Linked DNA regions of Homo sapiens. The protein of the gene in region 3 interacts with the protein of the main gene of each other region in a pairwise test. Each region holds a gene or a part of one and is shown on either strand. Other genes may lie near its edges. The genes, in order: DUSP23, PKIA and MRNIP.

Region 1 (10,903 bases), on a different chromosome or scaffold from region 3:
GAGATGATGGGTCCTAAGGAGGTTTTGGGGGATGGGATTTGGGTGGGAAGAAGGTCTGCTACAGAGGGGAAAGGAGGGCTTGTGTGAAAAAAGGTTGTCCATGGTGCCTTCTTTCCCCTAAGCTACAGGGAGGCTAGAGACATTTAAATTGGAGGATAATGACTGGGGCACTTTTTGCCTTGCCTGGAAACTAACGTAAAGGTAGGTAGAGTAGGAAGCAATGTTTCAAGCATTCCTCTAGAAAGGAAATCTGGAAACCAAGCCCTTCCTTGGAACAAAAAACAGGAAAGGTACATGTACATTAAGCCTGTTTTTCTTGGACATCTTTCTAACCCGTAGATAAAGCCAATGTGTTGTTCTAATCCAGGATTCTTAGGTGGTTCTAATTGACCTCAAGTTTTCACCCAGGCCAGTTAGGCCCCTTTGAGGCCTCTCCCTCTGCTGATCAGCTCCTCCACCCATATCCCTGCTCAGCTAAAACTTCTCAGCTCCAGAGAAGAGACACCTGGAGATCAACTCACTACCTCTGTGACCAGACCACTTTCTGGATGCTGCCGATGACCAAAGGAAAAACAGAGCTGCAGGACAAACAAGTCTTACACCAGGGCTTCTTAGTCATAGGTGTGCTTATGAGCCACCTGAGGATCTCACAGGTCGGGGGGCCTGAGATTCCGCATCTATCACAGGCTCCCATGTGACATCAACTGTGGATCACACCTTGAGAAGCACTGGTCTAAAGGTGGTGGAGGGAGCAGCCAGGAGTTTAGAAGGTGCCAAAACGAAACCAGATGCTGACAGTTTGTGAGTTCCATTGGTTCATCATATTTGTTGCATCTACACTGGAAAATGAACCTATGCGGCCTATAGTTTTAGAGACCGAAAAACTTAAAACAAAGGGGAAAGAAAAAAAGCAATACACCAGTTTAGAAACTCCAAAGGTTTAGTGCTGTGATGAGCATATTAAAGATAAGAAAATAAAGTAAATAAAGGCAACTATATTGGTTTTCTATTGCTGCATAACAAATTGCCACAAACATAATGGCTAAAGAAACACCATTTATGATGTCAGTTCTGTAGGTCAGAAGTTGGCCACAGGTTAGCTGAACCTAAGCTCAGGGTCTCCTCAGGCTGATATCAAAGTGCCAGCCAGGCTATGGCTCAGCTGAGGCTCGAGGCAGCGTAAACAGAAGAAGTGAGAGAGTCCACCAACATGGTTTTGATCACAGAAGTGCCTCTTCCCTAACTGAATGCTCCCTCTTGATTCCACTCTCACCTGCCTTTGTTGAATGGCTTTTCAAAAACCAAAGCCTAGTCCCCACCTCCCTCCCCATCTCCAGCTCCCATGATGATAGCATCTGATGTGAGGCAGCATTCCCAACACCCCAACTTAAACTTTTAATGTGCTCCTGGGATGATCTAAAAAAAAAGAAAAAAACACCATAATTTTAAATGCCATAAAGGCAATTGACTTGTCAAAAGTACAAGAAATCAACTAGTAAATTGGGAGATTTCAGTTATGGTATGTTCTGCAACAGTATACGAATCACAAATTTTTCAACAAGACAAAAAAAAGAGAAACAAGGAAAAGCTATCAGTGCCATCTTGTGGAAAGACCTATATTAAAATGTCCAAGGTAATCTGACCACACCCCAGACCATTTCAGCGCCTCTACACCCAAAGCTGACACACATCCAACTGACACCAGGGTAGCTTCACTGTTTGTTTGCAGGTAATGGTTCTGGTAGAGGTTCCATTTTAATTGCTTGTTTCTTGTGCCATGACCAATCATTAAATAATTTGTATATCATCTCTAACCATACAAATACCACAGCAACCTATACCTCCAACACCACACACACACAAAACTCATGCCCAGACTACTCTGGTTGGTTCCCCCACAGACAGCATGGTTCTCCAAATATGGAAAATTTGCATTGATCTATCACAACATTCCTGCATACACACACTTAGACCACAACTGCTTACAGTATAATTCTTTCTTTTTGAATTAACCTTTGTTTTAATTTTATTTTATTTCTTGAGTTTATTGTAAGTTATTTTTCTTCTTTCCTTCAAACTGAATATTTTTATCTATATTAGTTACATATTACTGCATAATAAATTACCCAAAATTTGATGGCTTAAAAGAATAAATATTTATTATCTCACAGTTTCTGTAGGTAAGGAATTCAGGAGAGGCTTAGCTGGGTTGTTCTGGCTCAGGGAATCCATGAGGCTATAATCAAGATGTTGGGTAAATCATCTAAAGTCTTCATGGGCTGGAGAATTCACTGCAACAGTAGTGAGCCACTGACTTGATGGTGGGTAGGAGGCTTCAGTTCCTCACCACATGGATCTCTCCACACAGCTGCTTGAGAGTTCTCACAACATGGCAGCTGGCTTCTTCCCAAAGCTTCCCATGGCAGGCCTTCTTTCCAAGACAGAACAAGGCAAAAATTAAGTATTTCATGATGCAGCCTAGGAAGTCACACACCACCAGTTACACAATATCTTACTGGTTGCAAAAATCAGCCCTATCAATGTGGAAAAGCACTACACAGGCATGAAATGGCTCATTGGGTACCATCTTGGAAGCTAGCTGCCATACCATTTCTTCTTAGGTTCAGTTTCCAGATTATCAGATCTTAGGTGTGAAGTGTGTTTAGACATTAAAAAATCAGAACACTGAGGACACTGAGAATTCTGACTGTAGTCCAAGGGCCACAGGAACCTGAACCCAAGCAATCCTTTGCATTGGTGGAACACAGGGACCTACCTGGAGGAAGAAATTCTCTGACTCCAATTGCACCCCTAATTGCCACTAGCATCAAGCCAAACAGGGGACTGGGGCCTCAATATGAACAAGAACTAAGTCAAAACATTCTTATCAGCTGGAAAAAGGGAAGCTGAGATGCCCTAAAAAATGTTCTGTTAAGCCTTATTTTTTACTTTTAAGTTCAGGGGTACATGTGAAGAATGTGCAGGTTTGTTACATACGTAAAAGTGTGCCATGGTGGTTTGCTGCACAGATCATCCCATCACCTAGGTTTTAAGCCCAGCATCCATTAGCTATTCTTCCTGATGTTCTCCCTCCCCAAGTCCCCACCCCAGACAGGCCCCAGCATTTGTTGTTCCCCATCCCCATGTGTCCATGTGTTCTCATCATTCAGCTCCCACTTGTAAGTAAGAATATGCAGTGTTTGGTTTTCTGTTCCTGTGTTAGTTTGCTGAGAATAATGGCTTCCAGTTCCATCCATGTCCCTGCAAGGGAATGATCTCATTGCTTTTTATGGCTGTATCATATTCCATGGTGTATATGTACCACATTTTCTTTATCACTGATGGACATTTAGGTTGATTCCATGTCTTTGCTATTGCGAATGTGCTGCAATAAGCATATGGTGCATGTATCTTTATAAAAGAATGACTTGTATTCCTTTGGGTATATACCCAGTAATGGGATTGCTGGGTCTGCTGAGCTTTTCATTGGACAGTAGACAAAATGGAAAGAAAAATCCCTCTCTTCATAAGACATTTCTGGTAGTTCCAATTCAAGCTTATCTTTCCCCCACTGACTTCTTTTGCACTTGTTTTTACTGCACAATTAGCTTTTTAATATGTATTATCTGATTGTCTTTGATGAGCAATTTAGTACTTTATTATATGTCCTGAGAATAATTACATCAGAGTCTAAATCCCCCGCAAGGATGTTGTAAATTCCTTGAAGTCAGGGAAATTTCTTAAGCTTACTACTCAGCCCACCATCAGTGTCAATAGATTGTTCTCCAGGAACACGGCCCCTCCAAAGCACTCAAATACACAAGCCATCACACACATGCACACTACAAGAGCAGTGCTCTATAAAGAACAAGCTTTATTTGTCCCATTTCACAAAAATAGTAATTAGACATAGCCAAGATCATACTGACACAGCCATTCTTTATTTAAAAGCACAGTCAAGTAAAAAATACACTTCAAAGAGATACTACCCAATACTCAACACAGTCCTCAAACTTGTGCATTTAAAAAGAATTACAAATACACATTGCCACATGGTCCGACAGACTCACATTCACTCCTAGAAATGTACCTTCACGGTCTTGCCAATGCATTCTTCTTATTAATTTCCCATTCATTTGTTTACTTAACATTTTGAGCCCTGTGGCTCAGGCTCCATATTAGATGTGTGGAATTCAAAAACGGAACAACGCATTCTTGCCTCCTCTGCAAACAAGTATCCTCAATCCAATGACATTACTATACTGAGAAGACATATTTATACAAGGTGAGATGGGAGAAAAAAAAAAAGCCTAAATCTTCCTGAGGGTCAGGTAACTCTGTACAGAGGAGAGAATAAAAGAAGGTCAGTATCATGTATGTGGGCAGACAAGAAGGTGGTTAGTTGCAGAAGTCCTGTTAATTGCAGAAGTCTGAGCCAGGAAACCATCAGAGAGGGTTTTTCCTTACAGTTTGAGGCCCCTTGGGCCCAAGACAAAACATCATATGGCACCCTTGACATATGGCACCCTTGACAAAGCTTAAGGCAGGGACCCTGGGCCCTTTCCACTCTGGGTCTGCTGGAAGGGAAGGGCAGAGCTTCCTAAAAAGGGAGCCAACTGGCCTCTCCACATGGAGGCCCTAATGGTTTGATGGATGCACTGCTAGCCCTGCAGAAACCCACAAGAGGGAGAGAATCATTGGTAGGGGACTCAGGGAAGAGGAAGATCTCGGTCTCCCAAAAAAATTTTCTCTTTCTGGAGAATATGGGCTTCGAGCTGGATATCAAGGAGGCAAAGAAGGAGCACATAGGAGGGTAGGGAGTGAAGTGGAAACTTCCCTGGTGAGTAGGGGAAGCAAAGAAAGGAGAACAAGGCAAAGGGACTAAGAAAAGATTAACTTACAAGAACAAATGCTAGAGTCTTGTCTCCAGAGGTAGTGCAACCAGAAATCCTGAAGAGCAGTTGAATTGAGAAGAGAAGTGGGAGGTCAGGGGGTTGGGGGAAGAGGTGACTGGTGGCTGAGAGGCCATGGCTGGGAAAGAGAGAAAGGAATAAACTGGGGAGGGCTGGTAACCTTGATAGGAATTTATGTAGGAAATGAGAGTGCAAACAGGAAGGGCTTAATGAGGGCTGTGATTGTCTGGAAGGAGAAAAAGGGGAGATTTGGCACCTCCTGGAACCTGGGGAAAGTAATTGTCTGGGTAAATGGTAAGTGTATTTCCCACAGGGTCAGAGCAGGCTTTGATCTTTAGGAGAAGACAAATTGCTTTCCATCTTGCTGAAGCCAAAGGCTTAAATGGTCAGACGTGTGTCATAGGTGGGTGCAAAGGGAAGGAAATATAATACATCCTCATGGCCAAGTGCCCTGGGCTTGGATCACTGTGTCCTTGGCCAAGTTAACCAACTTCTTTAAGCTTCCAATGATTCATGTACAAAAAAAGATACAAAAATACCTTTCACATGTGGTTCTTCCAGAAAGCGCTTGGCACAGGGCCTGGTACATAAACAAATTCAATAAGGGTTAACTATTTTCATAATTACAGTTAGTCTGCATCGCTAGAAGCACATTATTCAAATGAGGATATGGACTGGTCAGATGACAGTGGAAACGGTGTTCAGATCTAGGGGCCCCCACCTAGTAAGAACAACACTAATCAACTCTAGCCTGCCCAGGGGACAGTGACCCAGAGAACTAGGAAACCTTGAAAAATGAAGAAATATGAAATACTAATAAAAATTAAGAAAACCCACAAGCGTTTAACCCAGATAATATTTGGGGACATGAGGGGGTTATGTGAAGAGAAAACAATGTTCCATTTAACTTTAGGAAATGGCGATATTATTAAAGATTTTGGAGGCATTAGTCATCATCCTTTGGTCAAGTTTATTAACCTCTCCAGTGCCTCTGTTTTTTCATCCATAAAATGGGATTCACTAGATCACCTATCTTATAAGATTACTGTGGCAATTAAATGAGTCAGTATGTGCTAAGTGCTTAGAAGACTATCTAGCACATAATAAATGCTCAATAAGTCCTGAGGAGCAACTGGATTGACAGGAGAAGTTGGTGCTGGTTATTATTATTACTATAATTATTACCCTGGGTAAGTTTTTAATAGTTCCAGCAATGAAAAAATGAGAATAGCCTCCTTGCAGCAGTAATTCCCTCTTACTGGAACAGTTCAAAAAGTCGCTGATAACGACCAGTCAATCATTAGAGAGGAGACTCCTCGTCCTGGGAGAAAGCCGATTTGTCATCTCTTAAACCCCAGGGCATCCAGCGTGAAGGAGGTAGAACTAGGCCGGCCCGCGAGGAGGCAGGGGCAGGCGCCAGTGACGCAATGACTGCAACATGCCGCCAGGGTGCAGCAGAGCCCGACCCCGGGTTGTTCCATCCGCAGCAAACAATTCCTAACTCGCTCCAGGTCTTCCTTCTTAGCTGAGTGGGTTGAACCCCGTGGAAGTAACCCCCCGCCCATTATGATGATCCAGCCAATCACCGCGTGATCTGCTCGGACGGGGCGGGATCGCGGCGCTTCCCTCGGTCGCTCAGAGACTGGGTTCCGCGTTCCAGCCCCGCCCCAGGTTCTGGGCCAATCCCCGCGGCTGGGCAGAGCGACCCGAGGGCGGCGCCCTGCAGACCACGTGGCCCGGGAGGCGCCGAGGCCAGGTAGGTGGTGAGTTACTTGGCTCGGAGCGGGCGAGGGGACGCGTGGGCGGAGCGGGGCTGGCCAGCCTCGGCCCCCATGACCCGCTGTCCTGTGCCCTTTCCCAGCGATGGGCGTGCAGCCCCCCAACTTCTCCTGGGTGCTTCCGGGCCGGCTGGCGGGACTGGCGCTGCCGCGGCTCCCCGCCCACTACCAGTTCCTGTTGGACCTGGGCGTGCGGCACCTGGTGTCCCTGACGGAGCGCGGGCCCCCTCACAGCGACAGCTGCCCCGGCCTCACCCTGCACCGCCTGCGCATCCCCGACTTCTGCCCGCCGGCCCCCGACCAGATCGACCGCTTCGTGCAGATCGTGGACGAGGCCAACGCACGGGGAGAGGTCAGCGGGCGGGGTCAGCGCAGGGAGGGAGGGGCCTGGAAGGTCAGCGGGGGACACGGGCGGAGCTGGGGAGACCGGGCCTGGGATAACTTAACTGGGCTCGGGGAGGCAGACAGTAGGGCCGGGAGACTGGGAAGCCAGTGCGGGGGAGGGAAGCGCTAAACGGAAGGAACTAAAGAGAGGGCGAAGCAGTGCGAACTGGGCTTGAGGAGAGGCAGTGAAAACCAGCTAATACTGTGAGTTGTGAAGGAGAAGGGTGTGGACAGACACCTGGGAGAGGTGGGGGTTGAAGTCAGGTGGAGGCTGTTTACCATTTTCTAGAGTAAAGCTGTCCAAATATAATGGAACCTAAGTGGCTCCATGTAATGTTAATTTTTCTAGCAACGGCATTCTTAAAAAGCAGGGAAGCAGATAAAATTAACTTTGGTGATCTTAATGAGATATTTTCATTCTTTTTTCTACTACCTCTTCATACCCTGTTGCGTTTTTCACACTACATCTCAGTTTGGACTAGCCACATTTCGAGTACAGTAGCCACAGTAGCCGTGGCTACTGTCTTCTGTATTGAACACCACAGGTGGAGGGCTGTGTAGAGGTGGACAGCTCTTGAACCAGCCAGTGCAGAGGCCTCCTAGCCACCTAGTGCAGGGACAGCCCTCCCTGACTTTGCTGCAGAGCCCTGGACCTGGCACAGAAGAAGGAGCTGTGGGGAGAACCAAGTGAGGGGCAGGAAACAGTTGTGGGTGGGGGAGTTGAGTGGCACCCATCGAGCCCCCTCTTCGTAGGCTGTGGGAGTGCACTGTGCTCTGGGCTTTGGCCGCACTGGCACCATGCTGGCCTGTTACCTGGTGAAGGAGCGGGGCTTGGCTGCAGGAGATGCCATTGCTGAAATCCGACGACTACGACCCGGCTCCATCGAGACCTATGAGCAGGAGAAAGCAGTCTTCCAGTTCTACCAGCGAACGAAATAAGGGGCCTTAGTACCCTTCTACCAGGCCCTCACTCCCCTTCCCCATGTTGTCGATGGGGCCAGAGATGAAGGGAAGTGGACTAAAGTATTAAACCCTCTAGCTCCCATTGGCTGAAGACACTGAAGTAGCCCACCCCTGCAGGCAGGTCCTGATTGAAGGGGAGGCTTGTACTGCTTTGTTGAATAAATGAGTTTTACGAACCAGGGCACGTTGCATGGTACTTTATAAAGCATTCCCACACATTAACTTACTTCAGCCTCACTGTAGCCCTGTGATACAGGAAAGACAGATGGGCCATCTCTGTTCTTTGGATGAGGTGGGCAAAGCTCAGAGAGGCCCATCTTCAACACTTCTAGAAAGTGGAAGGATGGGCCAGAACAGCAACACACGTCTTCAATCCCTTGAAGATGCTGAAATGCTATGTATCTGTTCCCTGACAATATTTGATGTGTTTTCTGGGGGAGCTAGTCAATGAAAAGGATTCAGGTCCAGAATAGCCTGGCCTCCTGGCATTCCCAGGTCTCTGATGCTCACAGGCCAGGAGGCCCCTCCGTGTAGGCCCACCTGCTGCACACGTGTCACCCTTGTTTATCTGGGGGTAGAGACAGCCTGGATGTCACACTCACAGATAACCACCATCTCCACCTCCACAGGGCTGGTCACCTCTTACCAACCTCAGGTGCTGCTCAGCTCATCTGGGCTCTCTGGCTCATTCTGCTGCCCCACAACCTCAGGCCAAAGGACCTGAGAACAGAGCCAATCTAGGCAGTTATGCAGAGCAGATATTTAACAATTAAATGAAGAGTTCCAGGGCTCTAAATCTTGGCCATGTTTCTCAGATGTTATCTCCAGTTATCCCCTATTGGACCCCATTCTGCCCCCTTGTTGGGCCCTGTTTTGCCAGCACCACTACACTTTTGACTTATGAGAAATGGGAAGAATGGCATATATCCGCCCAATGGACTCTTTACTGTAGGTCTGCCTGTGGTCTTTTCTGCAATAGCAGGCTGAATAAGATAGAAATTCACCATAAAATATGTGAGTTCCTGTACGTACCTGTATGAGTTCTGTTAGATCTGGAGGCCGCACAGTGGAATGAGACATAATTCCTGCTCTCAGGAGCTCAGCCTGCTGGAGAAGATGGGCACAGATAGAGTCCACCACAGACAATGGATGCTATTGTAGACATGCATTCCAGTTCCAGTGGAGACATAGAAGAGTGGGGAGTCAAGGGTTCCCCTGTAGATCTCATCTTTTGTATCATAGACCAGAGACAGGCCTAGCCAACTGGTCCTCCTTTCTGCTGCTTTCCCCCTTCCACCACTAACCACCCAGTTCATCCCTGTCCAACTCAACCTTAAACAAGAGATATCAGCTGAAGTCTTGCCAATCTAAGGCCATAAGATGCCCTCTCCCCAGTTTAACTTTATTTGTCAAATCTGAGTGATCAGTTCCTTCAAGCTTAGTCTCCACCTAGCCTACTCAAGTGAGGATGTCTCCCAAAGAGAAGAAACCCACACATTCCAGGCATTCCAGCTGCAACAGAGGAATGAGAATGCAAATAGAGGATGCACTGAAACCCTTACCCTCCTGTCACCAAAAGTTCTGTCTACCCTGCTCTCCCCCATCCACCCCTCCCCCAATAGTATGGCCCCATTCTGTTTCTGATGCAAACCAGAACATCTTCCAAAGGGGTGTGTGTGTATTTTCATGTGAAGGGAGTAGGGCATGAAGGGTGTGAATGGGCCACTTCCTGAACCTCTCCCCTCCAGTCGGAGGGCTTACCAGGATGGAGAGAGAGAGAGAGAGGTGTGAGGCATGAAGCTTCCCCAAGTTCGTGTCTCCACTCTGATCCTCACCTGCTAGGCCATACAACCAATCCTTGCCCTTTCTGCCTCTGTTCCTGTGTCACTCCATCCTCCCCACATCTCTGCACTGTGGAAGAGGAATATGCCCTTCCCTTCCTCCCAAGGCTCCTGCAAGGGAAACAAAATTTTGCTAACCCCATTAAAGCCCTGTGTACTGCCTCCATCCCCATAATTTAAGCAAGTCTCCTCTGCCTCAAGAGTTCCTTAGGGAAATACACGTATAATTAAGTGCTTAAGGAAACTGCTTTTTAAATAATAAGAGTTGGCTTGAAATGAAAAACTCTGCCCTTATCCTTCCATCTACCTGGTGGGTTAGCCTGTGGCTTCCTTTGGGCTCGTTTCCACTCCCAGTTGTTTTTGTCTTCTCACCAAGCCCTCTTATGTCTATGGCTACCAATAAGGGGTAACAGACGAGCCATGTCCCTTCCCTTTCTACGCTGAGATAGATGATCTGTGCCACCATCTAAAAAGAACATTCGCCTCAAACCAGGATATCTCAACGATTGGCGTTTGAAAGTGGGTGATTCTTTGTTGTTGGGGCTGTCTGTGCATTGTTGGATCTTTAGCAGTTTGCCCGGCCTCTATTCACTAGATGCCAGTAGGATACCCCTCCTCCCCCCAGTTGTGACAACAAAAATGTCTCTAGACATTGCCAAATGTTCCCTGGGGGAGCAAAATCAGCCTCAGCTGAGAACTGCATGAGACCAACAAGCACTGGATGCAGTCATTGGCTTTCATTTCCTCTGGGAGTGGAGGTGGGAACATACTTGGTAATGTCTCCTGTGGATGCACACATCTTAATGGGACAGAAAGGACCAACTCAAACCTCCTACCTTTTCAAGCAATGTCTGGTAGCCATCCCTGGTCCGTCAGCCTTTTTCCTGGCTGGTTTCCCAAGACAGTGATAGACACCGCTAACTTTCCATATTCAGGAGACTTTGATTCTCAATGAGCTGCTGATGGGCACAGCTGCAGTAACATCTACTCCCACCCCCATTTTTTTTTACGTTTAATTCATGTT
Region 2 (11,066 bases), on a different chromosome or scaffold from region 3:
GGCAACTATATTGTTGTTCTTATATAATTGGACAGTAGTTATAACCTGGTAAGATCTAGTTCAGAAAAGCTTAAACAGATAAATATATACTTAAAAATTAATATGACATATAAAGCAATCTGAAATAGGTAAATTCATATTCATACTCATTTATTAAATAAATCACTTTAAAATCTTAAACATATTCTCATAACTTTGAAAAACAAACTGCCAGTGAAAAAATAAGTTTTCCTTGTTAAACTTGGCTCTGGAAACAAAGATTTTTCACATGCTTTTCCAAGCACTTGTCTCTTTATTTTAAATGAAATCCAACTTTCAAGGAATCAAATATTTGAAATAGGAAGAAAATATTAATGAATACATACATAGATACACATATACATAATTATAGTTTATAATATACATAAAATATGTGTAATATATGTGTATACTTGTATGTACATACATGTTTAAAGCAGGTATTTTCATTGTTTCCAACATCTCATCTTAATTCAGACTATGCCCCAAATTTACCCCTCAAGCCTTTGGTAAACAGCCAATCAGTTCAGTATTTAAATAGGGATTAACAATATTGGCTTGGAAATTTAAGACAAACTTACACTGATGATTTATACTTTTTACGTGAAAGAGTGAAGTTATTCTGTTCCCAGGAATACATGAAGAGACTCTACCAACTGCAATAAATTATCACAAATTTGGCTGCAGTTCTTGCTCACCACAAAATTCTCCCCTGTAAATAAATGTGATTTACATATTAAATATAAGGTCCTACACAGTTTTTGTACTTGTTTTTTAAAACCCAAATGGCCCATATCAATAACAGAAATCCATATAAGAAAAATAAAATGTAAAATTGTGTGCTTTTCAAGCCCAACAAAAATTGTCATCATACTAATGTAAATATGTCATTAAAAATGCAACTTTTATAGGCTGGTGTTTCTCCTAGTAAAGATTCCACAGTAAGTGAGGCTCTATTTTTTTTTTTTATTTTGTTTAACAGTTTTGCTATTCATCACATCTAATCAGTAGCACCTAATAATAAACAAGTCCCTGAATAATAATGCTTGCACGGTCTCTGTAAATTCTTCGGGCTTCAATAAAATAGAAATGTATCACAGACCAACAAAAGTATGACCTACAATGGAGTTAGTTTAATTTTTGTTTTTGGACAACTTAATAATATGAAACTTCTCCAATAGTTGCATATTGGAAACAACAACTATTTGAGTTAGCCAAATAGGATCTTCAAAGACTTTTGACATTCCTATTTTATATGGCACTTTGCTTCTGAAATAAGCACCCTTATTTAATGCCCGTAATATCATTTCTGATAATGAGCCAGTGAAACGAGTGATTAGACATGTGGTACAATTCAAAGAAAATAAGGTGAAGGATTGCTAGCCAATTGACTTTTGCCAGGTGATCCAATCAACTACTTGAAGAGTTAAATATAGAAGCTAGGTTTAATTCCCACAGCCACTGCTGATCAGAGCCTAACAACCTCGCATTACAGTGGACCCAACCTCTCCTGACACTGGCAGTGTCTGCATTAAGACATTTTCCAGTGAGATTCAGGGTCATTTCAAGGCTAAGTTTAACTTACATGGGGAGGGGTAGAAAAAATAATTCATGAACATTTGGGAAAAGATGTAGTAATGAGGTCTGGCTGTGTAAATTGTCAGTGGAAATAAAAATGATAAAAATGGAAAACATTAACCTTTACCATGTATATTTCAGACACTTCACTGAGTTCTCCTTTATGTTATCTTCTTTCATCTTCACCACAACTCGGTGATTTTCCTGTTTTAAATATCAGGAAACAACTCACAGAGGTTGAGTAACGTATAAATCACACAGCTAGTAAATGGTAAAGGTATGATTCAAAGCCCACATTCATTTCCTGAAAAACATGATCTAGACATAAGTGGTAGCCAAAATGTCCCCAAATAAATAAATTAAAAATAAATAGCAAAAGGGAGGAGGAAAGCCCAGTGATCAGAATATATTCATGATAATGGTTAGAGCTTTTTGATTGAACTTGAAAATGATTAAAAGCTGCCTGAGAGCTCTAAGAATAAAATTGTTACAACTTTACAGTCAGACATTTTGAGATTAACCTAATTGCTTTGCTTTCATAACACCGTAATGCCATTTTATTTCATTTTCCATTTTATTAGAAAAAATTTAAACATTTAAGTATTGCCTAAAACTGTTAGTGATTTTTCTTTTCTAAATAGATGAGCAAGATGCCAACATTCATCCTCTTATTTAATGGACTGTTTAGTGTCAGATAATTTTAGTGTCACGTTTGAATTTTGTGGTGAAATAGTCATTCCAACATATCTCGTGAAGATGTGACAGGCCCACTATCTCACACCTATATGCAGGTTGAAAACATTTTCAATTGACAGTAACTGTACTTTATCTCTGATTGTGTTCTTTACAATCAATGAGATTGAAAAAGAGATGCAGACAAAAGAAGTGCTGACTAATACTCCATCATTATAATCTCTATCTTGCATTCTGAGTTTTCTAAAAGTCCCCATCTGCTATAGTTGAAAAGGGGAATGTCATGTTTTCCTGCCCTGGGTAAACAGATGGTGCATGGTTAAGTGTCTTGAACTGCTTACTAGATAAATTCCAGACTAAAATATGATTCACCTCTAATTTCCAACTTATAATACCCCAGAGGGAAGAAAGTATGGTTTTAAAAGAACCAGGGAAGAGGGTAGTTCTATCCATAATTTACTCCTACCACATATACTAAAGCAATCACAATGAGCTTGTGTAGAATACCAATCATTTTGTATTGGGGGGTAGCTTTCAGAAATAAATGGTATTAGTTCATTTTGTTGTTCAACTAATGTTTTGTAATCTCCTGTATTAAAGCCATGTACCATACTGGCCATTTGAGTTACAGAAATTTTTATGCTGTTGATATTTTACTTATGAAATAACAATTTACGTTTATTGAATGCTTAGTATATGATGCTGATAAGCTCCCCAGAAATCTTAACATTGATAAAATATATCAAATGCTACTTTTTCATGCTTTGCTTTGAAATCCTGAGTTATTCTCTAATATGGAGAAGATGAAAAAAATGTAATTTAGATTTCTACAGGATCACCAGCTGTATCTTAGCCAACTTTTATCAATGGAGAGTCTCAATAGGTACATTTTTAGTTATCATAAAACTCTTTTTTACTGATTATTAGGTAATTCTAATAAATATGGGCATGTAACAAATAGTTAAGAACATCAGCCCCATTTTATCTCAGCTTGACTCACTGCAGGAAAGCACAAATTTGAAGAAAGCCATTTCCCCAAGAACTACTCACTTCCTTGAGAGCCACGTGAGAGACTAACTTGGATGACAGTGACTTGTCACAATTTATTTTTGATGGCACTAGTTTAAAAAAGTGGTAAAATAGTCTTTTCAGAATGAATCATTTCTAAAAATCCATTATTCTCCAGTGATTATACCTTATAAGTAGAAACCCATATATATAAAAACATATATATTTATATATAAATATAAATGTTTATATATATATAAATATAAATGTTTATATATAAATATAAATGTTTATACATATATTTATATATAAATATAAATGTTTATATATAAATATAAATGTTTATACATATATTTATATATAAATATAAATGTTTATTTATATTTATATATAAATATAAATGTTTATATATATTTATATATATAAACGTTTATATAAACGTTTATATATATTTATATATAAATGTTTATATATATTTATAAATATAAATGTTTATATATTTATATATAAATATAAATGTTTATATATATTTATATATATATAAATATATATGTATAAATATAAATATGTATAAATATTTATATAAATATATATGTATAATGTTCCTTTCCTAAATTGTTAATATATTACCATAGTTACTCTTTAGAATTTCCTGGTCTTTAAATCTAAATTTGTATTTGAGTGATTTTGACAGATTATTTCTAGTGACTCCATTGGATGCCCACTAATTTCAGATTCAATGTTATTTCTGCAAGTCCCAGCAAAATTACATTTTGGAAATGGAAAAGGGGTCTTAACATTCAGGTTATTTTCCTCTACATTTCAATTATCAGAGAAGCTGTGTATGAAAGATCATGGAGAGTTGTGCAAGAATTGCATTAAAGGTATTACTGACTTTTCTGTGTTTATTTGGTCAGATTCTGCAGTATATAAGTGAGGAATGTAGCAGGTTGTGTTGCTGTGACTATTGCAATGACCAAAAAACTGCTGCTTCTACCCTTTGGTCTCATAACCACAGCAGTGCATTAAGAAGGTATGGCCATGGTGTTGCTTATTCAGACAAAGATAAGAATGCTGATTTGTTTTACGTCTGCTTTTCAAAGAGGGTTTAATCAAACAACCATAAAGATAGAGGTAAACCATAGGAGAAATGTTTATTAATAATTCCCCCCACCCCAATCAACTGAAGAAAAAGCATACTTTAAAATGCAGTTGTGACATGTCTAGGGTCAGCTACACTGTGGAGTGTGTCTGTCCAACTAAATAAATGTTCTAGCAACCCTTTAGTTTTAAGTAGATACTCAAACATATATTATAAGACATGTTGCTTCATCTTTGTCCTTTTAGCATTTTAATGTTTAAGTAAAAACTAATGCAATCTCCAGCAAGCCTTCTGTTTCTCCTCTCCTGGCCGATGCAATAGAGACTGTCTTCTGCTGAGGAGGATGGTTAAAAGTCTTGCCAATTCTGTTTATACTTCACATACGCCAAATATTTTGTAGTTTAGCTTCAATAAGACACTGTTATCACTGGGCTTTATTATTCTATTTCAGAATAAACTAAAAATAATACATTAAAGAGAAACTAAGAAAAAAAAATAAAAGATTTACCATAATGTAGGTACATAAATCTGAACAAACAGACCAAATTTTAGATTAGGTTTGATGCAAATAACCTATTGCTGGTGCAAACAAACAAACAAAAACCCTAAAAACTAGCTAGAGATGTTTCTACTATTCCACATTGTTATTACAAGACTTAACTGACATCTATGATGCACTTTGTCATCTATGATAAAAAAATGCATGATTGAGAGACTTTCTCTCTCAATACTTGTGTATAGCATTTTTCCTCCATGAACTGGAAATGAAAAAAGAGAGAATATTTCTTTGCTCGGATCATGTTCAGTTGATTTCCTTATAGTATCTGTATTCATTTTTAAGATAGTATGAAAGGGTTCCAGAACATTCAGTAATACTATCTGTTACAGAATGTTAGGATTTTTATAGTCTATAAACTACAGTATCTAGAGTACTCAAACTATAAATATCTGGGCATAATCTCTGACCCAATAATTCCACTCCAAGCATTCTTTGATCAAAAGTAAAAGTACTGACATATAAAGACATATGGATTAATATACTCTGTTTATTACCACATAACTTGAAGTCACAAAACAATTTGGAATTAAGTAAATGTTTTTCAATGGGTTTTGACCAAATAAATTATGGCACCTTCATAGTGTATATTACTTGACATCTATGGAAGATAATATGGTGGTGTTATATGCTAGCCATGTTTAATGTAATAGACAATGTACTGAAAGTGTTTTGCAATTCAAAATTACCATATGTGTTATATACATACAATGAAATAGTATTCAGCCTTAAAAGGGAATGAAATTTTGATACATGCTGAAATATGGATGAACTTTGAAAACATTTATACTAAGTGAAAGAAGCTAGAGACAAAAGGACAAATATGTATGAAAGGGTTCCAGAACATTCCATAAGTGATTCCACTTATGAGGTACCTAGAATATGCAAATTCATAGGCACAGAGAGTAGAATAGTGTTTACCAGGGGCTGAGGAAATGAACGGTTATTGTTTAATGTGTATAGAGTTTCTGTTTGTGATAATGAGACAGTTCTGAAAACTGATAGTGGTGATAGTTGCCCAACATTGTTAATTATACAGTTAAAAATAGCTAAAATAGTAAATGTTACGTATATTTTACCAGAAAAAAAATTTTAATTATAAAATCTATAAAATATAAACTTACCTGATATGGAGCACATTATAAAGTTTTCATAACATTTTACTTATTTTAGACACTTATATAGTTATAATCTTATTTTGGTACAAAAAAAGGTATTTGGGAAATGTAAAGAAGGTAACAGCTTAAGTTGTCCTTTTGAGTTTTCTATCTTTCCATCTCTGTTTTTTTTTCCAGACTAATGTTGTTCTTGTCACACCTCTTTGAACGCTCTTTAAATACATCAGGAACCGTGCTTGCTAGTACCAGTCCCTTTAAGTATCAGCTGAGAATCTGAATGCATTTTTATGAATCTAAAATGATATGCAGCTCTTTCAGGATGGCACTTGTTTTAGAACCTAGGAGGGATGAACATAAATTATCATTCTTTCCTTAACTTGGCAAAAGCAAATATATTACTGAAGATGGCATTACCATAAAGAAATATTAATATTGAGACAGTTAATAAGTCCATCCTAAGAGAACTGAATATATTCCAAAGTAAACTACACCAATCAACTGCTGGCAATGTTTTCCCACATATGTGGTAGTACAATACTCTTAAGTCTGAGAACAGTTTCTTTTTTGTAAAAATGGCTTTGATTGGAAAACCTTAAATAAGTCATTTGGAATGTGTAACGTTCGGAGCTCCCTTTCCATGCCTTTTTTGTGAATCAAGGTTCTTTGAGTCACTATTTTCACTAGCACTTGCTTCCTAGTCATCAGCTGTCTTCATGTCAGTGTTGGTGAAGGGCTCTCATTTCAGGTCTTAAAGTAAGGAGAAAAACAGAAGGAAAACCTCATCTCAAGTACTGGAAATGTAAGGGCTAATAAAGGACACACATATTGTCCAAGGGAGCACAAATAGATGTTCTTTAACTATTCTGTAAAGAGAGCTTTAGTGAATCCACAAACACCTGCATTTGTATGCAAAATTAATATGTGTATGCTTCTGTATGTACTTGGGGAGAAGATGTACAGACTTTACTGAGTTATCAAAAGTTTGAGATGTTAACCTAAAAGTTTAAAAAGCACTGGAAAGATTAATCACAAAACAACTTGAAACTATTCTGATGGCTCTGACTTTATGTTTTTACAATGTTTTCCCTCACTCTGTTACACTTCAAAGAGCGGGTGGTAATATGGAAAAAATCTCTGCCATTCAGGTGACATCTCTGAGCCTCAGTTTTCTTAGTGTAAAATTCACATATAGTATAAACATCAAATGAGATACCAAAGATGAAAGTCCCTAGATGAGTGGCTTGAAACAAGATAAATGCTCATATGCATAAGGTGCCTTCAATGCAATAATACTGAAAGCAGGTACAATGTCTTCATTAAAGATTGGTTTTGCTATGCTCACCATGCTTTTAGTATCCATTTAAGGACATTTAAGCTCATAATACCTTTTGTAGATTATAATGATTTGAATGTACTCTCAGTATATTTATTATTACTATAATGATTTTTAAAAAACCAAATTAGCATTTGCACATATATTGAGAACTTAACTTGGCTGGTAGAGGAGTGTAGGTAGATAGATTTATAACTCTGGAAAATAACTTATTTCTTCACTAAAATCAAATTGCTGAACACCTATAATACATATATGTAGCTAGACACCATAGAGTTGCAGGTAATAAAAACTTATTCCCAGACCCTGCTTTCAAGAGTTTTTTTTAGAAGAGCAGACAAAGCATGTTCACATGAAAGGATAACCCAAAATAGAATGTGCTATGGGAATTTAAACAAGAGAGGGGCACATCTGGTTGGGGAAGGAAGATGGGTATGGGGAAGGCTTCATAAGTGAGTCAGTATCTGAGGTGAACAAGGTTTCGACATGTAAGAGGATGGGCTAACAGAATAAATGAAAACACATAGGCATGCCACCATGGGGTACAAATTGGAAAGAAGATCCACTTGGTTTAGGTTGGGCATGGGGTACTTTAAGGGAATTAGTGACAAATTAGATTAAGAGATATCACAGTGCCTGATACATAGTACTTAATATTACCTTTTAAACACAAATATTGAATCCAAGAATAACATAGAAGAGGACTTATAAAATGAACAGGGTGAAATATTATAGAAATCTGGCAATTAAGAGGTCATTGGCAACTTTCAAAATAGCACTTTTTTCTACCCATTCTCAGTGGAGTCACTGGTTGAATAGAAATGACATTTCTATTTGAGCCTTATTATTGCTATTCTTTTTCCTTTTCCATTTCAACATTTCTGAACTTTTAAAAAAGTTTTTATTTTTTAATTTGAGACAGGGTTTCATTCTGTTGCCCTGGTTGAAGTACAGTGGTGCCATCATGGCTCACTGCAGCCTCAGACTCCTGGGCTCAAGCAATCCTCCTGCCTCAGCCTCAAATCTTAAGGCTATTTCAATTGTAGTTAATGGCAGTAATGCAGCACCAGAAAAAGATATTTTGTTAGAAGAGGGCAACTTTAACTCCTAAATTTTTACTCTCTAAATATCTGGTAACACTGTCTAGCAGACAAAACTTTTTTTTTTTTTTTTACACAATTGGAGAGCAGTAGACTGACTTCAGTTCTATCTTGTCAAACACAAAAGTGCCTGCAGTTCATTTAGTATCTAATCATTTAGCATCTAATCATGCACGTCCTTCCATTTTTCATTCCTCTTTCAATTCTGAACACCAGCCAATTAGTTTTTCCTCTCCCTAGGAAACATTTTAAGGAAAGGATATAAAGTCATAAATCAGTTTCAGACATAAAATCATACATATATTTCTGCTTAGCCTTCTAAATTTAGAAACTTTCCTCAAACTTGTTTAAACACAACAAAGTCCAAATTCAGGAATCCCTTCAGTTTGATTATCTTCCTCAGTTGTACTAAAATGAAAATTAAATTTTCTAACTTGTTTTCTTTCTTCTCAACAAGATTTCTCCAACTCCAGTCCATAACTTAGTGGGTTCAACTCACCTGCAAAATCACTAGCAAGTATTATTCCACCTTAGGCAGCACCAGTCTCCTAATCCTGAACCTATTTCTTGCCAAAGAGTTTAGTTTCTTCAGAAACTAAATGATAGACACTTCGAATTTCTAACCATCATTAGGATATTCTCACGCACTTGCTCTTCAACAGAAAGGTGACTGTCAACATTACAGAAACTGCATTGTATTTCTAAGATCAATTGTACTAATCTGTATTTCATATACCTTAGGTTATTTAGAATAACTATATTAAAATTCATTATTATTCTATATTAGTATTATTCAGAATAATGATGTATATGGTTAAGTATTTTAATAGTAGAAAAAAGGTGGTAGAATACAGGGTTTGTTGTTGATCTTGTTCTTTGTTACCTCATAGTTAATGTGACTGAGTAAAAATTCTAGAATCTCAAGAAGTTAATATTTCAAACCAAAACCCTGTTTAACACATAATAACAACAACAAAAAAGGAACATAAGGTTATTAAGACCCCAAGGGGCAGTTCCTGGAGTGGATCACTCAGTAGTGGGCTTTGCCCACCCCCTACACCCTCACCCTATGCCTCATATACTGAAGATGGAGACAAAGAAACAAATTCAAATCTTTCTAAAGTGCATTTTGTAAAAACGAAATTTGTAATAGAAAGGCAATAATGATATATAATATGATTAACACGATTTTCCATACTAGTGTCTTTGCTTAAAAATAATATTTGAAGAGGAAAGAAAGAGGTAAAATTTTAAGCTACCAACTCTGCCCCTCTTTTTCATTGATCTTCTAATTTAATTTACTAAAATAAAATTGCATGGCTGTTGAGTCAGACAGTCTCTGTAATTTTAAGTTTAAAGATAACAGATCTTCCTTTAAATAGAACATTGGCACACAGATACCCCACAATCTGGCTTATTGCAACTGTTCTCTGTTGGTGAAGTGGCACGTTTGCAATCCCCATAACAGCCATCTTAACCATTTCACAGCATATTATTCAAATGTACATCTCTAGGTGGCAACAAGGATAGGCACTTGGGCTCAGTAGCAAGGGGTCTGTGGGGAAAATCCTAGGACGAGGGATAGGAACCTGCAAATGGCAAGACAAACTAGAGGATACTCAACCAGAGGCTTAGATTGGGCAGCTCCATTGGCTTTCTGACTGCCTACGAGGAAAACCTCACTGGAAACTCTTTTGAGGTTCTTGAGGAATCCTAGAGGCAAACGGACTCCTCTGCCTTTTGGAAAGGATTTGTCCCAAATCTTAACAGCTAGCTGTCTCAAAATCCAACTGGACTAAAATTGCTTCAAGAAAAACTGGATGGACTGGCATTCACATTTTTACTTCTACCTATGCCTATGCATAGGGAACATCCCTCACACTCCAGTAGATTCTATCTGTCCTCTCTAGCTTTCAAGTAGCCACAGTGACTACAGCGAAGGGAGTTAATGGGATAACATGTTGGTACAGGGCCACAAGCAGGATATTTCATTCCATGCATTTGGGGGAAGGACACAGGTAACAGTATACAGGGAGAATACCGAATAAGAAATCTGTGTGAGGCAATGCCCTTTTTGGGACCTTGACAAAATCAGTCATGGAACCCAGGTGGTGGATAAGAGCTGACGAGAGTTGGTCTGTGAATGGGCACAGCATCTCCGAAAAAGATCAATGAAATGATTGACAGAGAAAATGGCAATTGAAGGAAGAAGCGATGTCAAGTGCTGCTCAACCCAAGCTGAACTCCAGGAGATAAGAGAAGTTTCCCCTCCAGATAGAGGCTCTTTCTAAAGGTTCAGTCTTGAAGCAGGTGTTTTGCCATTGAGAGGGGCACAGACCCATTCTGATAACTGGAAAGGGAGAGGACCAAGGACTACAGGAAGAGGGACGATTTCTGATTACCTCAGGCTGCTGCCAGGGACCTACTGCTCCAAATCCTCAAAATACTCAAGCGAAGGTAAAAGGCACAGAAAGCAAAAGAGTAACTCAAATTATTTTAAATTTTGAGTCCTCTTCACTGTCTACGCGAATCTGGCACTGAAATGGTAGATCACGTTCAA
Region 3 (11,066 bases):
ATACATTTTTTCCCACTTACCAGTCACAAATTCATCCAACAAATATTTATTGAATACCAACTGTGTGCCAGGCCTCATCTTGGGGTAGACAATACAGGAATGGACAAGACTCCCTGTCATCATGGAACTCACATTCAAGTGAGAAGAGACAGGAAAGAAACAAGTGAGCCATATAACCTATCAGATGCTAGTAAGTGCTCCTGAGAAAGACAAGGCCAGGAAAGAGGTCGTACATAAGAGCATACCGTTTTACATAAGGTGTTCAAAATGGTCAAGAAATGCATCTCTAAGAAGGTAACGTTTGAGCACAAACAGGAAGATATGAAGAAGCAACCCACATGGCTGTCTAGGGGAAGAACATTCCAGCAGAAGCAATACATGAGAATGAGTGTGAAGACCCTGAGCCTGAAATTTTGGAGGAACAGCAAAGAGGCCAGCATCGCTGGAGCTGAGGGGTCTAAGGGGAAGACGGTACGAGACGGAATTTGAGAGCATGGGTCCTGCTATGGCACAGGCAGATGGTACAAGACGGAATTTGAGACCATGGGTCCTGCTATGGCACAGGCAGATGGTACAAGATGGAATTTGAGAGTACGGGTCCTGCTATGGCACAGGCAGATGGTACGAGACGGAATTTGAGACCATGGGTCCTGCTATGGCACAGGCAGATGGTACAAGACGGAATTTGAGAGTACGGGTCCTGCTATGGCACAGGCAGATGGTACGAGACGGAATTTGAGACCATGGGTCCTGCTATGGCACAGGCAGATGGTACAAGATGGAATTTGAGAGTACGGGTCCTGCTATGGCACAGGCAGATGGTACGAGATGGAATTTGAGACCATGGGTCCTGCTATGGCACAGGCAGATGGTAAGAGATGGAATTTGTGACCATGGATCCTGCAATGACACAGGCAGATGGTAAGAGATGGAATTTGTGACCATGGGTCCTGCTATGGCACAGGCAGATGGTACGAGACGGAATTTGAGAGCATGGATCCTGCAATGACACAGGCAGATGGTAAGAGATGGAATTTGTGACCATGGGTCCTGCTATGGCACAGGCAGATGGTAAGAGATGGAATTTGTGACCATGGGTCCTGCTATGGCACAGGCAGATGCTACGAGACGGAATTTGAGAGCATGGATCCTGCAATGACACAGGCAGATGGTAAGAGATGGAATTTGTGACCATGGGTCCTGCTATGGCACAGGCAGATGGTAAGAAACAGAATTTGAGACCATGGGTCCTGCTATGGCACAGGCAGATGCTACGAGACGGAATTTGAGAGCATGGATCCTGCAATGACACAGGCAGATGGTAAGAGATGGAATTTGAGACCATGGGTCGTGCTATGGCACAGGCAGATGGTACGAGACGGAATTTGAGAGTACGGGTCCCGCTATGGCACAGGCAGATGGTACGAGACGGAATTTGAGGGCTCGGGTCCCGCTATCGCACAGGCAGATGGTACGGGATGGAATTTGAGAGTACGGGTCCCGCTATGGCACAGGTAGATGGTACGAGACGGAATTTGAGGGCTCAGGTCCCGCTATCGCACAGGCAGATGGTACGAGACGGGATTTGAGACCACGGGTCCTGCTATGGCACAGGCAGATGGTACGAGATGGAATTTGAGAGCATGAGTCCTGCTATGGCACAGGCAGATGTTAAGAGCCTGAATTTGAGATCCTGGGTCCTGCTATGGCACAGGCAGATGGTACAAGACGGAATTTGAGAGGATGCGTCCTGCTATGGCACAGGCAGATGGTACGAGATGGAATTTGAGAGCATGCGTCCTGCTATGGCACAGGCAGAATCAGCTTCAGGGTGTGACAGCCGCTCTGCTGTCGCCATCTTGAAATTCTTAACAGTCTGGCCTTTGAACCTGTGTTTTTTAAGTGAAGTGTGCTGGGACAATGGAGCACATCTGTGATCAGACACACACACTATACGTGTCCAGTGTTCCTCAACACCCCACTGGCAGGAGCATTCTTGATGTCCCGTGAGCACAGAATTCTGGTGGACTCCCAGTGCCTGGCAGCTAGTAAGTCAAGTGAGAACTGAGAACCAACCGTTGTTTTTAGCAACACAGAGACCACTGCTGACGCTGACAGAAGCAATTGTAATGGACACGTAGGGAGTGCAGTCCTGTTTGGAGCACATTCGCCTGAGAACGGAGAAGAGTAGCTGGAGGGGGAAATGGCAAAGACCAGGCTGGCATAACCAGTAGCGGTGTGCTCTTCCATAGGGCAGGGACTGCTGGATGGATACTGAAGCGCATTCTTCCCGAAAACTAGATGTCATTTTCCAGTGTGCGTGTGGTCAGGGGTGGCCACGAAACCAGCCTCTTTCCATGGCACTGTCACTTGCTTCCCAGCCTGGCCCTCAAAGCCTCTCGGTAGCTCCTCCAAGCACCTGCCCTTCTCAGTGGCTAGAAGCACAGTGGCTAGAAGCAGCTACAGATGAGCCTCAGGGAATAGAAGCAGCTCAAGATGGCAGGAGCTTGGATCCCTGAGCAACCACATCAAGGGCAGCGCCCTGCTGACCTTATCATCTTCCCAGGACTGTTATGAGAGCAAGAGAAACGTCTATTGTATTAAGCCACCACAATTTTGGTGTGTTTGTTACTGTGGCCTAGTCAGCCATACACCACATACCACACACAGCACAGAGGCATTGAGGGGAGTAAGAAGGCTTCCTCAAGGAGAATGTAGAAATATATACATCTCAAACAAGCCATGCTCACCATGTGGGGTGTCTGCCTACCTGGTAAGCCAGCCCCTCTCTTCTGAGACCCAATCCCAGTTGACTGGACCAGAGGTGGGCATCCGAGTCAGCCTGGGCCAACCAGGTTGCTTCTCCTAGGAATTTATAATTGAGACTCAGCTCTTCCAGTTGGCTTGGAATGAGATTCTATGGACTTGGAGCAGAGAATCTGACTGAACAGTCTGGGGAGAAACAGAAAGGGAAGGAGAGGAGAAAATAGAGTAAAGATATAGGGAGAAGCTGGGTGATGGGCAGGAAAAGCTGATGTCTGGCTTGTTGGCAGCTTTTCAGTTCTTGGGGCTAGTTTTTCAAGGGACCGGGGATGAAGTTCTGCCCTTGGATTCCCTAAGAGATCTCATTACCTTGCCAGCACTTTATTTATTTATTTATTTATTTTTTAACTTTGCTGAACCCATTCTGAAGTGTTTTTTTTCCCTTTTTTAAAAAAAATATCAGCCAGGCACGGTGGCTCACGCCTGTAACCCCAGCACTTTGGGAGGCCAAGGTGGGCAGATCACGAGGTCAGGAGATTGACACCATCCTGGCTAACATGGTGAAACCCCATCTCTACTAAAAATACAAAATATTAGCCGGGCGTGGTGGTGGGAGCCTGTGGTCCCAGCTACTCAGGAGGCTGAGGCAGGAGAATGGCGTAAACCCAGGGGGCGGAGCTTGCAGTGAGCGAGATCGCACCACTGCACTCCAGCCTGAGTGACAGAGCGAGACTCCGTCTAAAAAAAAATAAAAAAATAAAAAATATCAGGTGAAGGCACTCACCAACATTATGAAATGTTTTTGTCTACGGAGGCAGGTGGATCATTTGAGGTCAGGAGTTCAAGACCAGCCTGGCCAACATGGTGAAACCCCGTCTCTATTAAACATACAAAAAACAAATTAGCTGGGTGTGGTGGCATGCATCTGTAGTCCCAGATACTCAGGAGGCTGAGGCAGGAAAACTGCTTAAACCCGGGAGGCGAAGGTTGCAGTGAGCCGAGATTGCGCCACTGCACTCCAGCCTGCATGACAGAGAGAGACTCCATGTCAAAAAAAAAAAAAACCCCAAAAAACAGCAATTTAACTTTTAGGACTTTGTCCTAAGTAAACAGTAAACAGCTGGTCACGTGGATAAAGAGGTTTTTGTGAAAAGCTTCACGGTAGAGTTGTGCATAACAGTCAAAAGGGAAATCAACCTAAATGCCCAACAAGGTTGGGCCAGTTCCTTACTCACTCCACAAACACCGAGCACTGTGCTAGGTGCTGCGGATACACCAGCAAATAAAAAGCCTCTGTTCTCACGGAACTTACAGCCTTAGATGGACAATCCGTGCATAAACACATGACTATGTAACTTCCATAGGATACTGAGAAGAGGGAGGGGAACTCCACAGTGAGCACAAAGGCCTGAAGAGGGAGCAAATTTGGGTTTAAGGTCAGAAAGAAAGCACATGGCTGTAGAAGGAGAGGAAAGATGAGAGGTGAAGGGAGAGGTGGCACTGGGGCTGGAGCAGGAAAAGAGCAAGTTCAGTAAGGCAAAGGATGCAGGACAGTTTGGGGTCCTAGAGTTCAGGAGGGGCAATACGGATGGACTGAAAAGACGTACTGAATGCCAGCTGCAAACAGCTGGATGAGAGCATTTACAGCCTGCCCCTGCCTGCCTCCACTTCCTGAGCCCACTATCCCACACCTCCACCTCCACCAACGGCCTCTGCCCTTCCCCGGCTGCCCTGATTCCTCTGTCATCTTCTCACAGTCCCCAGTGCTTTCCTTTCCTTGTGCTCAGCCGAGTTTTAAATTATGCAGATGCATGTGTGCATTAGTTTCTCTTCCCCTTCCACACAAGTGCATCTGTGAGGGCAAGAATGACAATGGGCTTACTTTCCACTGTTCCCCTTGTGCTTGGCACACAGAAAGTACTCAAGAAATACTTGCTGAATGAAGAATCAAATGGCAGTACCTTTCCAGATTCTGCTCCATCCATTTCACTTCCTGAAGGAACAGGAAGCTCGGAAGCAGGAGCTCCGTGTCTGGGGAACTCTGTTTGAGAGAGGATGATCCCAGCTGTGGCATGCTGGGACTCCCTGGAAGGGCTCGCTGCAGGCCTGCGCCCCACTTGCTTTCTGTTTTGTAGGACTCACCTGCAAAAAGGACTGCTTCTCTCCACAAGCTTTGCATGTCCACTTGACACTCTTTTTTACCTGCAATGAAATTTCAGAAATACAACTCAGATAATTATTTAAAACAAAATGGAATTGGGCTGGACTCGGTGGCTCATGCCTGTAATCCCCCTTTGGGAGGCCGAGGCGGGCAGATCACAAGGTCAGGAGTTCGAGACCAGCCTGACCAATATGGTGAAACCCAGTCTCTACTAAAAATACAAAAATTAGCCAGGCATGGTGGCGGGCACCTGTAATCCCAGCTACTCAGGAGGCTGAGACAGGAGAATCGCTTAAACCTGGGAGGTGGAGGTTGCAGTGAGCCAAGATTGCACCACTGCACTCCAGCCTACACGACAGGGTGAGACTCCATCTCAAAAAAACAAACAAACAAACAAAAAACAAATGGAATTGGATCTGAAATTTTTTTTTTTTAAATCCCAAGTAGCTGGGATTACAGGTGTGTACCACCACGCCCAGCTAATTTTTGTATTTTAGTAGAGATGGGGTTTCACCATGTTGACCAGGCTGTTCTCAAACTCCTGACCTCAAGTGATCCACCTGCCTTGGCCTCCCACAGTGCTGGGATTACAGGTGTGAGCCACCATGCCTGGCCTGAAATAATTTTTTTTTTTTTTTTTTTGAGACAGAGTCTGGCTCTGCTGCCCAGGCTGGAGTGCAGCGGCGCAATCTCGGCTCACTGCAAGCTCCCCCTCCCGGGTTCACGCCATTCTCCTGTGTCAGCCTCCCGAGTAGCTGGGACTACAGGTGCCCGCCACCACGCCTGGCTAATTTTTTGTATTTTTAGTAGAGACGGGGTTTCACCGTGTTGGCCAGGATGGTCTCGATCTCCTGACCTGGTGATCCACCCGCCTCGGCCTCCCAAAGTGCTGGGATTACAGGCGTGAGCCACCAGGGCTGGATCTGGCCTGAAATAATTTTAAAAACTGATGGAAGGAGTCCAGAAACAAACCAAAGCATGTGTAAACATTTAGCGTATCATAATCATAAAGGTGGTACTTTAAAAGTGAGAAAAGAACAGACTATTTAACAAGTCCGGGTTGGTGCTGGGAAAACTGGCTATCTGTATGAAACACAATCAAATTGGGCTGGGCACAGTGGCTTGAGCCTGTAGTCTCAGCGACGAGGGAGGCCAAGACTACTCGAGCCCAGGAGTTTGAGGCCAGCCCGGGTAGCATGGCAAGAGGCTGTCTCACAAAACCAAATCCAAACAAAACAAAACCACTCTGAAAGACCCAAATTGAAGCTGTAAAAAAAAATTCCATAATATTCCTGTCTCGCAAAACCAAATCCAAACAAAACAAAAACACTCCGTAAGACTCAAATTGAAGCTGTAAAAAAAATTCCATAATATTTAAATTCTTGTTAAACTTGGGTCTAAAAAAAATTCCGTAACATTTATTTTCAATTCTTGTTAAACCTGACTAGATGTGTTCTCTCTTAACATATAAAATGCCTAAAACCCACTCTAATGCTGGAGAATCTTTACCAGCATTCCACATGGAAGTCAAGAACAAGCCAGGGTTGCCCGCTATTATTTACCATTTTTTTCTGGATGTACTAGCCAATGGAATTAGAAGAAAGTTGTAAGATGTATAAAAATTATAAAGGAGCGGAAAACCCTATCATTATTTATAGACATAATTATAATACCTGAAATAACTCCTGACCTCAAATGATCTGCAGACCTCGGCCTCCCAAAGAAAAGCCAATTTTTTAATTTTAATTTTAATTTTAATTTTTTTGAGACGGAGTTTCGCTCTTATTGCCCAGGCTGGAGTGCAATGGTGAGATCTCGGCTTAGTGCAACCTCCACCTCCCAGGTTCAAGAGATTCTCCTGCCTCAGTCTCCCAAGTAGCTGGGATTACAGGCACGTGCCACCACGCCCGGCTAACTTTGTGGTTTTAGCAGAGACAGGGTTTCATCATGTTGGTCAGGCTGGTCTCGAACTCCTGACCTCAAGTGACCCACCCAAAGTGCTGGGATTAAAGGCATGAACCACCAGCCCGGCTGCTACCTGACATAATTTTTTATCCGAAAACCAACATAATGAAATGAGAAGCCACTAAAACCAGATAGTCTAATACAGTGGTTAGGTACAAAATTAAGATACCTTCAAAAATTAATATAGCTTTTATATGAGCAGACATCTAATTAGAACACATAATTGATAAAGAGTCCATTTATAACAGCAACAAATAAAATGTTACCAAGGGATACCAAGGTTACTTGAAGAAACGTAATGGATCATGTTTAACACCACAAAGATGTCTAGGTTGATCCATTAACATTAATACGATTAATATGATCCTAATACAAAATCATGAGGTTTTCGGGGGAAGTATCCAAAAGGATTCTAAGGAGGACAATGAGCACCTACCAAAAATTGAACTGGGTAATGACTTAGCAATTTTACTTCTCAGCTTCTACCTTAAAACACCAATAAAACTGTGGATTTTCTATGAGTATATAAACAAGTAAGAAAAGTTGTTTTTTTTTTTTTTTTTTTGAGACAGAGTCTGGCTCTGTTGCCCAGGCTGGAGCACTGTGGCGTGATCTCGGCTCACTGCAACCTCTGCCTCCTGGATTCAAGTGATTCTCCTGCCTCAGCCTCCCAAGTAGCTGCGATTACAGGTGCCCGCCACCACGACCTGTATTTTTTGTATTTTTAGTAGAGACGGGGTTTCACAACATTGCCCAGGCTGGTCTCGAACTCCTGACCTCATGATCTGCCCCCCTCGGCCTCCCAAAGTGCTGGGATTACAGGTGTGAGCCACCGCACCCGGCCAAGAAAAGCCTTTTTAAAAGTTTAGGACTCACAGAACCTGGTAAAGGAATTAATTGTGGGAACTGCTGAGATAGTATGGTTCTGCCACTCCCTAGATGGAGAAACCACTTGATTCCCGTGTATTTCGGAATTCTCATGTCTCTAAGATGGGAATGATGCCTAAGTCAAAGGTTGTTGAAGTTAAACGTGTTAAAGTAGTACACAGCCGACTTGCAATTAAAATTAAAGTAGTACATAGCCGACTTGCCGTCCTCTTTGGTTTCAAGTAATTTTTCTTTGTTTTTGAGACAGGGTCTGGCTGTCGCCCAGGCTGGAGTGCAGTGGTGTGAACACGGCTCACTGCAACCTCTACCTCCTGGACTGAAGCGATTCTCCTGCCTCAGCGACCCTGAGTAGCTAGGACTACAGATGCGCGCCACTACATCTAGCTATTTTATTTTGAATTTTAGTAGAGACAAGGTCTCGCTACGTTGCCCAGGCTGCTCTGGAACTTCTGAGCTCAAGTGATCTGCCCTAGTGGGCTTCCCAAAGTGCTGAGATTATGGGCGTGAGCCACCGGGGCCAAGCAACTCACATTTCATAAGGTTGAAAATGACCACGAGGGTCAGGGGCGCTGGCTCACACCCGTAGTCCCGGCACTTTGGGAGCTAAGGCGGGAAGAACACTTGAGCCCAGGAGTTCCAGACCAGCCTGGGCAACACGGCCGAAACCTCATTCCTACAAAAAATATAAAAATTAGCTGGGGATGGTGGCCCACACCTGTAGTACCAGCTACGTGGGAGGCTGAGGTGGATCAGCTGAGCCCGGGAGATGCAGGTTGCAGCGAGCTGTGATTGTTACCACTGCACTCCAATCTGGGCGACAAAGCGAGACCTTGTCTCAAAATAAATAAGTAAATAAATAAATAAATAACACTGGTGAACATGGAAGAGTGAAACAGGAAAACAAACAAGGAAATAGAGGCCGGGCGCAGTGGCTCACACCCGTAACACCAGCACTGTAATCCCAGCACTTTCGGAGGCCGAGGCGGGCAGATCACGAGGTCAAGAGATGGAGACCTTCCTGGTCAACATGGTGAAACCCCGTCTCTACTAAAAATACAAAAATTAACTGGGCTTGGTGGCGCGCGCCTGTAATCCAAGCTATTCGGGAGGCTGAAGCAGGAGAATCGCTTGAACCCAGGAGGCGGAGGTTGCAGTGAGCCGAGATCACGCTACTGCACTCCAGCCTGGCGACAGAGTGAGACGTGAGACTCTGTCTCAAAAACAAAAAAAGGAAATAAAAATAAACGGAAAATTTGTTTTTAAAAAACAGCATGAAACATTAGACGTGGAATAATTTAAAAATGCAAATGATCTCCCTTTATTTGCAACTCTTAGGACCCAGCTCCCGAAAGAAAATAAGTAAAAAGTTTCTGAGCCCTTAAAATGGCCCTTACAAACGCTTAGCATTAAATGCAAGCTTACAGACACATACTCAGCATCTTGCTGACTTTTTAACATACCTCTTAAACAAGTCTGATCCACGCCGGGCACAATGGCTCTCGCCTGTAATCCCAGCACTTTGGGAGGCCGAGGCAGGCGGGTCACCTGAGGTCAGGAGTTCGAGACCGGCCTGACCAACATGGAGAAACCCTGTCTCTATTAAAAACACAAAATTAGCTGGGCATGGTGGCGCATGCCTGTAATCCAGCTACTCGGGAGGCTGAGGCAGGAGAATTGCTTGAACCTGGGAGGCGGAGGTTGCGGTGAGCCGAGATCGCGCCATTGCACTCCAGCCTGGGCAACAAGAGCGAAACTCCGTCTCAAAAAAAAAAAAAAAAGAAGAAGAAGTCTGATGCTATTCTTTCTCAGGGCATAGCAGATTACCAATAATTAGGAGGGAGGGACTATCAGAAGCAGATACGGTGACTGCAGTGTTAAGTGATATCAAGCAGGGAGACAGGTGCGATCCGGAAAAGGTTAAGTGGCATTCTCTATCTGGCACGCTGAAAGTTAGGGAGGCAAATATGTCCTAGAAACACAGATTATCTGTCTTTAAGACTCCGGGGCCCGTGGTTTATGCGTCGGCGAACAGCCATATCAAGTCCCTGGCCCCGCGGAAACGGACGGCGGCAGAGGCGCGGGGCGACGGAGAGGGCGCCCAGGTGTGGAGCAGGGACGCCGCCGCGGCGCGCTCGGTCTCTAAGAACCGTCCTCCCCCTCTCACTGAAACTGCGACAGCGCTACTTCGTGGGGTAGGCTCTGCGTAAAGGATGCTATACTCAACCGGATTCTCCCACTACCTGCTACAATTCACAAGAGGCCACCTCCGCAGAACCATTACCTCTGGTTTGTACAAGAACCAAACAAAAAGCTCAGAACGTTATGCGGGGGCGACCCCAATGAGACCCGCCCTCAGCGGTCCCTGCACTCCTTCGGGCCCGGTGCATCCCGGAGCCATTCGAGACAACACCCACAGCCCCGCCACTCCCCGTCCGCTGTCCCCGCGCCGGAGGAGGAGGAGGGGGCTGGCACCCGCCAGACCTGGTGCGCCTGGAAGAGGCGGCAGCTGCAGCAGCGTAGCACCCGAGAACGCTGAAGCGACGCCATCCCTGCTTGTGCAGTCGCCAGGCAGCCAAGCGCGTGCGCTCTGCATTTGTCCCGCCGCGGCCCCGCCCCACGCACGCGCTCCGAACCCTCTAGTCCCCTACGCCGTCTCGCATGCGCTTATACTCTTCGCTCCGGCCGCCGCGGCCCCGCCCCTGCGCACTGGGATCCCTCTAGCCTGCCGCGCCTCTCGCTGGTCATCTGCGCCCCTCCGACCTCGGAAAGAGTCCTGGGTGCGGGATTCCTGGTAGCCGACTCGTCGTCTGACCAGGGCCGTGCCCGCATCTTCCTAAGGCACTGGTTCCGGCCCTGGGGAGACTGGAATTGAGACGACAGGGCCTCCGCTGACCAGTCCTTGGACACAACGCGGAGCGGGGCTGAGGGGCCGCCCTGCCAGGCCTGCGCTGCCGTGCTTTTAGGTAGCAGCGAACAGTTAGCCTTTGAACCGGAGCCCGGGGTGGAATACGGGGAGACGGAGGGGCTCACCACACCCACGCTTCCCGGAGAGGGCGGCGGAGGCGCGCGGCCGCCGAGCGCGAAGCCGGTCCCCCTGCAGCCCCGGGAGCGTCCCAGGCCCACCCTACGGAGGGTGGAGGCGCCCCCGCAGCCCGACGCTCACGCCGCAACCCTGTGTGGCTTAGGGTTGTAACCTCGTTGGAAAATAAAATACAAAAAATATTAAAATTACCTCCCACCGTACAACCCTCGGTGTCTAGGGTTGTAATTTTAATTTTTTTTCCAACTT

The links.
Region 1: the proteins of MRNIP (region 3) and DUSP23 interact in binary tests that used the Homo sapiens proteins (3 or more experiments, as listed by UniProt).
Region 2: the proteins of MRNIP (region 3) and PKIA interact in binary tests that used the Homo sapiens proteins (3 or more experiments, as listed by UniProt).

Annotation. Positions count from the first base shown.
Region 1 is NC_000001.11:159,774,325-159,785,227, forward strand, and holds DUSP23 (dual specificity protein phosphatase 23), read left to right. Parts: upstream 1-6,637; 5' UTR 6,638-6,776; coding exon 6,777-7,043; intron 7,044-7,828; coding exon 7,829-8,014; 3' UTR 8,015-8,219; downstream 8,220-10,903. UniProt on the Homo sapiens protein: Protein phosphatase that mediates dephosphorylation of proteins phosphorylated on Tyr and Ser/Thr residues. In vitro, it can dephosphorylate p44-ERK1 (MAPK3) but not p54 SAPK-beta (MAPK10) in vitro. Able to enhance activation of JNK and p38 (MAPK14).
Region 2 is NC_000008.11:78,516,693-78,527,758, reverse strand, and holds part of PKIA (cAMP-dependent protein kinase inhibitor alpha), read right to left. Parts: intron 1-11,066. UniProt on the Homo sapiens protein: Extremely potent competitive inhibitor of cAMP-dependent protein kinase activity, this protein interacts with the catalytic subunit of the enzyme after the cAMP-induced dissociation of its regulatory chains.
Region 3 is NC_000005.10:179,848,473-179,859,538, forward strand, and holds the start of MRNIP (MRN complex-interacting protein), read right to left. Parts: upstream 10,346-11,066; 5' UTR 10,325-10,345; coding exon 10,259-10,324; intron 4,966-10,258; coding exon 4,906-4,965; intron 1-4,905. UniProt on the Homo sapiens protein: Plays a role in the cellular response to DNA damage and the maintenance of genome stability through its association with the MRN damage-sensing complex.